Homo sapiens: one gene and its partner. The protein of the gene in region 1 interacts with the protein of each later gene in a pairwise test. Each region holds a gene or a part of one and is shown in the gene's direction. Other genes may lie near its edges. The genes, in order: ZNF439 and CLIC6.

What was found.
Region 2: the proteins of ZNF439 (region 1) and CLIC6 interact in a two-hybrid assay, tested with the Homo sapiens proteins (one large-scale study listed by BioGRID and IntAct).

The regions. Positions count from the first base shown.
Region 1 is NC_000019.10:11,865,407-11,869,986, forward strand, and holds the end of ZNF439 (zinc finger protein 439), read left to right. Parts: intron 1-235; exon of another isoform or gene 236-750; coding exon of another isoform or gene 751-798; coding exon 799-925; intron 926-1,130; coding exon 1,131-1,191; intron 1,192-1,899; coding exon 1,900-3,163; 3' UTR 3,164-4,080; downstream 4,081-4,580. UniProt on the Homo sapiens protein: May be involved in transcriptional regulation.
Region 2 is NC_000021.9:34,706,754-34,710,572, forward strand, and holds part of CLIC6 (chloride intracellular channel protein 6), read left to right. Parts: intron 1-526; coding exon 527-636; intron 637-1,190; coding exon 1,191-1,316; intron 1,317-1,946; coding exon 1,947-2,053; intron 2,054-2,603; coding exon 2,604-2,785; intron 2,786-3,819. UniProt on the Homo sapiens protein: In the soluble state, catalyzes glutaredoxin-like thiol disulfide exchange reactions with reduced glutathione as electron donor. Can insert into membranes and form voltage-dependent chloride-selective channels.

The DNA.
Region 1 (4,580 bases):
CTTAGGTGTCTCCCCTCCTCTCTGCTTATATCTAGCATGCCTGTTTTGGGTGGTCCCTGGGGTTGTGGGATTTCCCAGGGGCTACCCTTCCTGCTCTTGGCTAGATATCTGCCTTCTCTAACAATGTCATCAAAGATTACACTTTGGGAACAGGCATTTTCAAGGATACACAGCTTCAGGACTGCTAATGTTAACTTTTTTCTGCATATTAATTCATAGTACTCTGTTATGACAGGTGCTACAGACCCACAGTCCAAGGAGACATTAGGGACAGCCCAAGCAGCTGACAGAGCGATACACTATCACAAAAAAAAAAAAAAAAAAAAAAAAAAAATTGCTGTCTGGGTGTGGTGGCTCATGCCTGTAATCCTAGCACTTTGTGACTCTGAGGCAGGTGGATCACCTGAGGTTGGGAGTTCGAGACCAGCCTGACCAACATGGAGAAACCCTGTCTCTACTAAAAATACAAAATTAGCCGGGTATGCTGGTGCATGCCTGTAATCCCAGCTACTCGGGAGGCTGAGGCAGAAGAAGCACTTGAACCCCGGCAGTGAGCCGAGATTGCACCATTGTACTCCAGCCTGGGCAATAAGAGTGAAATTCTGTCTCAAAAAAATAAAAAAAAAAATTGCTTTATGGAAGAAAGTAAGTATAGACAGAGAGAAAGGGATCTGATGACCAAAGCAGGGAATAAATGTTTGGAGTCCACGGCATCCTGAGAACTTCTTGGGAATAGAGTCTAGGCCCCCAATGCTGTCACTCTCACCCATCCTCCTCTACACATGTGAGATGTTTCAGGACCCAGTGGCTTTTAAGGATGTGGCTGTGAACTTCACCCAGGAGGAGTGGGCTTTGCTGGATATTTCCCAGAAGAATCTCTACAGGGAAGTGATGCTGGAAACTTTCTGGAACCTGACCTCTATAGGTAAGGATGACAATATTCCTTCCCTCAGTGCATTAGTTTACCAATGTTTCTAGCTCACCAATGCTGTTGAGTGATTTGGAACACAGACAGGAAATACTTTGATGAATAAATGAGGCATGGCTGCTGTAAATCATGGGCATAGGTCTAATAATTTTTTCACAATTTTATACTGCCTCAGGATTATTTTTCTGTGTTTGTATTTTAGGAAAAAAGTGGAAAGACCAGAACATTGAATATGAGTACCAAAACCCCAGGAGAAACTTCAGGTAATTTGCACTTATAAGAGAAAGCAGTGTCTCTCTACACGATCTTAGAATATGAGACTATGTTAAAAATAAGTAAAACAAAGAACTAAGTCCAGGATCAAGTTCATTTATTCATACAATATTTTATCTAAAAATATATATTTAAATGTGATCAAGGCTGAGGGCTCACTCCTGTAATCCCAGTCCTTTGAGACATGGAGATAGGAGGATAGCTTGAGGCCAGCAGTTCAACAACAGCCTGCGCAACATAACAAGACCACATATCAACAACAGCAAAAAATTAGCTGGGCATTGTGGTATGCATCCGTAGTCCCAGCTACTCAGGAGGCTGAGACATGAGGGACATGAGGATCACTTGAGCCCCCAGGAGTTAAAGGCTGTGGTAAGCTATGATGATACCACTGCACTCCAGGGTGGGCAACAGGACAAGACCCTGAAACAAAAGAAAAATGACACAGAGTATTTAGTATTTTAAAATAGTTTACATGGGAAGAGTATTAAGAAGCCCCATATAAACATTTTTTTAAATAATAGGTATGGCTAGGTCACCTTGTAGAATGTGTTGTCCAGTCACCTTCAAACAATTCAGACAGGGCAGAAAGCCTACACTTTGATGGAGAGTGTTAAAAATGCAAGTACAATACTTGCTGATTAATATAAAATTACTTATAAACAAACTCTTCATAATTTGTTTCTCATTTTTGACAGGAGTGTCACAGAAGAGAAAGTCAATGAAATTAAAGAAGACAGTCATTGTGGAGAAACTTTTACCCCAGTTCCAGATGACAGGCTGAACTTCCAGAAGAAGAAAGCTTCTCCTGAAGTAAAATCATGTGACAGCTTTGTGTGTGAAGTTGGCCTAGGTAACTCATCTTCTAATATGAACATCAGAGGTGACACTGGACACAAGGCATGTGAATGTCAGGAATATGGACCAAAGCCATGGAAGAGTCAACAACCTAAAAAAGCCTTCAGATATCACCCCTCCTTGAGAACACAAGAAAGGGATCACACTGGAAAGAAACCCTATGCTTGTAAAGAATGTGGAAAAAACATTATTTACCATTCAAGCATTCAAAGACACATGGTAGTGCACAGTGGGGATGGACCTTATAAATGTAAGTTTTGTGGGAAAGCATTCCATTGTCTCAGTTTATATCTTATCCATGAAAGAACTCACACTGGAGAGAAACCGTATGAATGTAAACAATGTGGTAAATCTTTTAGTTATTCTGCTACCCATCGAATACATGAAAGAACTCACATTGGAGAAAAGCCTTATGAATGTCAGGAATGTGGGAAAGCATTCCATAGTCCCAGATCCTGTCACAGACATGAAAGGAGTCACATGGGAGAGAAGGCTTATCAATGTAAGGAATGTGGAAAAGCATTCATGTGTCCCCGTTATGTTCGTAGACATGAAAGGACCCACTCTAGGAAAAAACTTTATGAATGTAAGCAGTGTGGGAAAGCATTATCCTCTCTTACAAGTTTTCAAACACACATAAGAATGCACTCTGGAGAAAGACCTTATGAATGTAAGACATGTGGGAAAGGCTTTTATTCTGCCAAGTCATTTCAAAGACATGAAAAAACTCACAGTGGAGAGAAACCGTATAAATGCAAGCAATGTGGTAAAGCCTTCACTCGTTCCGGTTCCTTTCGATATCATGAAAGGACTCACACTGGAGAGAAACCCTATGAGTGTAAGCAATGTGGGAAAGCCTTCAGATCTGCCCCAAATCTTCAATTGCATGGTAGGACTCACACTGGAGAGAAACCGTATCAATGTAAGGAATGTGGGAAAGCTTTCAGATCTGCCTCACAACTTCGAATCCATCGTAGGATTCACACTGGAGAGAAACCCTATGAATGTAAGAAATGTGGGAAAGCCTTCAGATATGTCCAGAACTTTCGATTTCATGAAAGGACACAAACACATAAGAATGCACTCTGGAGAAAGACCTTATAAATATAAGATATATGGGAAACACTTTTATTCTGCCAAGTTATTTCAAACACATGAAAAAATTCACACTGGAGAGAAACCCTATAAATGCAAGCAATGTGGTAAAGCCTTAATTGTTCCAGTTCCTTTCGATATCTAAAAGGACTCACAGTGGAGAAAAACTCTATGAGTGTAAGCAATGTGGGAAAGTCTTCAGATCTGTCAAGAACCTTTCAATTTATGAAAGGACACACACTGGAGAGAAACCCTATGAATGTAAGAAATGTGGAAAAGCGTTCCATAATTTCTCTTCTTTTCAAATACATGAAAGTTGCACAGAGGAGAGGCGCCCTAAGAATGTAAGCATTGTGGGAAAGCATTCATATCTGCCAAGATCGTTTGAATACATGCAAAACACACACTGGAGAGAAACCTATGAATGTAAGGAATGCAAACAAGCATTCAATTATTTTTCTTCCTTGCATATACATGAAAGGACTCATACGAGAGAGAATCCGTATGAATGTAAGGATTGTGGGAAAGCATTCAGCTTGCTTAATTGCTTTCATAGACATGTAAAGACACACCAGAAGGAAACCCTATGAATGTAAGCAATGTGGCAAAAGCTTTCACTTCTTCCAGTTCTTTTCAATATCATGAAAGGACTCACACTGGGGAGAAACCGTATCAATGTAAGCAATGTGGGAAAGCCGTCAGATCAGCCTCAAGACTTCAAATGCATGGAAGCACTCACACTTGGCAGAAACTCTATGAATGTAAGCAGTATGGGAAAGCCTTCAGATCGGCTAGGATTCTTTGAATACAAATAATGAATGTAAACAATTAACTGTTTATAATAACTGTATACTAACAAATGTTATTCTTTTTAAATAATTAAGAAGCTATAATAAAATATCCATTGGTGTCATGTATTAGATCAAGCTTATAATGTTACATTGTTATTATTTGGATATTGTGAATCAGCATTACCTGGATTAAATGCCAGGCATATTTTTCCTCATGTAAACTTTACTTTTCATGCTTATGTACTTTAATTTTTATTTCAACTGTAATTTTTCTTTTTTTTTCCTTTTGCTTTTTCTTTTTCTTTTTTTTTTTTTTTTTTTTTTAGAAAGAGCCTCACTCTGTTGCCCAGGCTGGAGTGCAGTGGTGTGATCTTGGCTCACTGCAATCTCTGCTTCCCAGGTTTGAACAATTCTCCTTCTTCAGCCTTTTGAGTAGCTGGGACTACAGGCATGCACCACTTCACCCAGCTAATTATGTGTATTATTTAGTAGAGACGGGGTTTCACCATATTGGCCAGGCTGGTCTCGAACTCTGGACCTTGTGATCCTCCTGCCTCGGCCTCTCAAAGTGCTGGATTTACAGACATGAGCCACTGCGCCCAGCCTCAACCCTAATTTTTCTTTCACTCATAATA
Region 2 (3,819 bases), on another chromosome or scaffold:
ATTCTTTTCCATTGTGGTGTAGTATCTCAAGGCATGGAAATACTACACTGACACAAGTATTCTACTCTTGATAGTATCTGGGTTGTTTCCAGGTTTTAGCTATTATACCAAAGCTGCTAAGAATAGTTGATCCTTGGAGAGGATCGAGAGATAGAGGGAAGGAAAGGGCGTGTCTTTCTTTTTCACATTGGTGATAAAGGGAGTTCCCATTGCTGCTCCTTCCATCAGTGAGCTGCTGCTCAGAGGCCCAGTGTGGCAGGCAGTGGTGAGGTGGTGGGGAAGGAAGAAAGAAAATGCTCAGTGCAGTGCATACATGTGCATGTGCGTGCGTGTGTGGTGTTCTCTCCCCTAACCCCTACATCCACCGCCAACTCCACATTGAGGCTGGTAAAATGGCCTCAGGAGGATATTCGCAGCATCCTGACCGTTCTTATCAACCTGCAATGATTTTGCATGTGCATGTTGTGGTGTTGGCACTTATAATTGTGAGACTGGCTCAGATAGAAATCTCCTTCTCCACTTGTAGGCTGGTTATGATGGTGAGAGTATCGGAAATTGCCCGTTTTCTCAGCGTCTCTTTATGATTCTCTGGCTGAAAGGCGTTATATTTAATGTGACCACAGTGGACCTGAAAAGGTAAGACAAGGCGTCTGCCTTACTGAAATAACTGTACCTAGTTCTCTGCACACACACACACACACACACACACACACACACCTGAGGCCAACGGTGCTGCATGGGCACGTCCATCCTCAGTCGGAGTCTGAACTGAAGCCCACATGTGGGCCAAGCAGTCATGACAGGGTCGGCTGGGCTGGAGTCAGGAAGGAGGAGGAGTTGGGGGTGCCGTGAAGAACCTGCTTCTCCAGTTGCTGGTCAGCTGTGACTCTCCCAAGCCTGTCTGAGCACCATCCCTGGCTGATAACACTGGGGAGAGTTAACTTTTTCACCTCTGTTTGTTGATATGCCCCTTTGTGCTCCGTATTCACAAAGGGGCACCTCAACAAGCCCATCATTTGTTAATGAATGCCTTTACTTTCATCGCCAGCAAGACATTTTCATAAACCCACCATCTACTTTGCAGTTCTCAAGAGTTGCTTCTCTTAAACTGGTGAGGACGCGGCTAAGCCCTGGAAATGAGTCCAGATTCTCACGGTGGCCCATAAACACTGCTGTTTCCTCCCACCTAGGAAACCCGCAGACCTGCAGAACCTGGCTCCCGGAACAAACCCTCCTTTCATGACTTTTGATGGTGAAGTCAAGACGGATGTGAATAAGATCGAGGAGTTCTTAGAGGAGAAATTAGCTCCCCCGAGGTAGGCCTCAGAAAACCAGTGTTCATAACTTGATTGTCACTTTCCCCCACTAGTAGTCAGTTCTAAAGCTCTGGGCAGTGTGTGTGTGTGTGGTTTTCTGCAGCCCACGGTGCTCACTTCCTTAATCATAACCCTGGTGTAACCAGATTAGAGTTCGGGGACCTGGGTTTCATTGTGCTGCACCTGCAGCTTGGCAATCACAGTTTGATGGCAGGAAGTGGGAGGAGATGGGTCCAGGGTGGGTGGTTGGCTGTATCCTAGACACCCTGCTGGAAGCTATGGAGTATGTGTTAGGAAGAAGTATCATGGATTTTTGGACCTCGGGGGAGCTATTTCTACTCCATCCCCTTCGTTTTACTAGGGAAGCACCTGAGACCAGCAAGGCCAGGTGGGGTCCTGTGTCCCAGAACTGGCCACTGCCAGGAAACAGCAACAATCCAAACCTCTCCGTCCAGTGCCATTCTCCTAGATGTTGTTACTTCCCAACCTTTGAGAGGAAAAGGGTCAGGAAAACGTTGAAGGAAAGCTTTTCATTTTTATGCCCAGAGAAAGCTGTTTTTCTCCATTGTATAGTATTATCTTCACTAAAACATCACTTGTCTGTGATCCTCCAATTTTGAACTTTTCAAGGTATCCCAAGCTGGGGACCCAACATCCCGAATCTAATTCCGCAGGAAATGACGTGTTTGCCAAATTCTCAGCGTTTATAAAAAACACGAAGAAGGATGCAAATGAGAGTGAGTACCTCCCATCCTCCTGTTTTGTTTCAACACAGACTTGAGTCTTAGCATGGCGGCCCATACGCTCCTGGGGTATTCCCATCTATTTCCCAGTGGGTAGAGAAGTGAGTCTGGAGCTACAGAAAAAGTGCCTCCAACTTTGAATCTGCACGTGGGCTTCAAGAGATGAATGCTTCTTTTGAGGCTGGGAACTCAGAAAACAACATTTTTAGGGAAAATAGTCATCACCCAGGTGTTCCGGACACACCATGGGAATCATGTTCAATGATGTTTCTGCCAGTCCACGTCTCCCCACAGGCTTTCCATAAGTATTTTTGAATAAATAAATCACTTCTAGAAGGAGCAATATTGTGTAGACAGCAGTGTGATTTTCCAGGGAGGAGTGAGCCCTTTATTCAGATATTCTACATCCACCTGCTGCCTTCCCAGCACCCATTGCTTGCTGGCCACATCTCAGCGAGGAAGGGAAGCAAACTCCATCACAGCTGGTGAAAAGTGACATGCACTTGCAAACCTCTCTTTGTGATTTCTTGCCCTTCTGTTTTAGTTCATGAAAAGAACCTGCTGAAGGCCCTGAGGAAGCTGGATAATTACTTAAATAGCCCTCTGCCTGATGAAATAGATGCCTACAGCACCGAGGATGTCACTGTTTCTGGAAGGAAGTTTCTGGATGGGGACGAGCTGACGCTGGCTGACTGCAACCTCTTACCCAAGCTCCATATTATTAAGGTTCATCTTCCCTCCCGACACGTGTGCCGAGTACACGAACGGGGCTTTGTTTTATTTTGTTTTTACTTGTGTTTGGGCCAGACATTTAAACAGTCTGAAATGTGGAGACTTGGATTAAAAACACTAGTTCTGTTCGGGGCAGCCAAGCCCCAGCTTTCACACACACAGAAGATGGGCTTCGGGTGTTCTCAGAAAGTGCCTGGGAACATGGCCCCACCTTCTGCTTCTCTCTCAGCCTTACTCACACAGCCTAAAGACAGGTTATGTGAAAGCAGCCTGAGGAATTTCGTAGATTATACCTGGTGTTAGCAATTGAGAATTAGAGATGAGGCTCGTAGAATCTGGGGCTATTCAAATGTGAACGCAGTCTACTGTTGGTGATTGTAGGGCTCCACATGGCCCCTTCTAGGGATGACAGAGGAGTGTTCTATTAGCTTTTAACAGTGACCCTTGGCCAGGTGCAGTGGCTCATGCCTGTAATCCCAGTGATTTGGGAGGCTGAGGTGGGAGGATTGCTTGAGGCCAGGAGTTCAAGACCAGCCAGGGCAACATAGCGAGACCCCATCTATACAAAAAATAAAAAAAAAAAATTAGCTGGGCATGGTGGTGTGTGCCTGTAGTCCCAGCCACATGGGAGGCTGAAGCTGGAGGATCACTTGAGCCCAGGAACCTGAGGCTGCAGCAAGTTAAGGAGGTGGCACTGCACTCTGGCCTGGGTGACAGAGTGAGACCCCATCTCTAAAAACAATTAGGTTATTAATTATTTATTTATTTTAAAAAAACATTGACCCTCAACATCCAGGAAGCAGCTGGCAGCTTTTGGCTGAGTCTCTGCCATATTTGTTGCCCTGCCTTCCCATATAGTAGCTGAACATGATTTAAGAGCCATGAGTCATGTATTATTAGGGCTTAAAGACCTGCCAGACCCGTGGTTCTCCAATGTTAGTAGGCATACAAACTGTCTGGGGAGCTTTTTAGAAATGTGAGTCCCCGGGCCAGGCATGGCGGCTCACGCCTGTAATCCCAGCACTTTG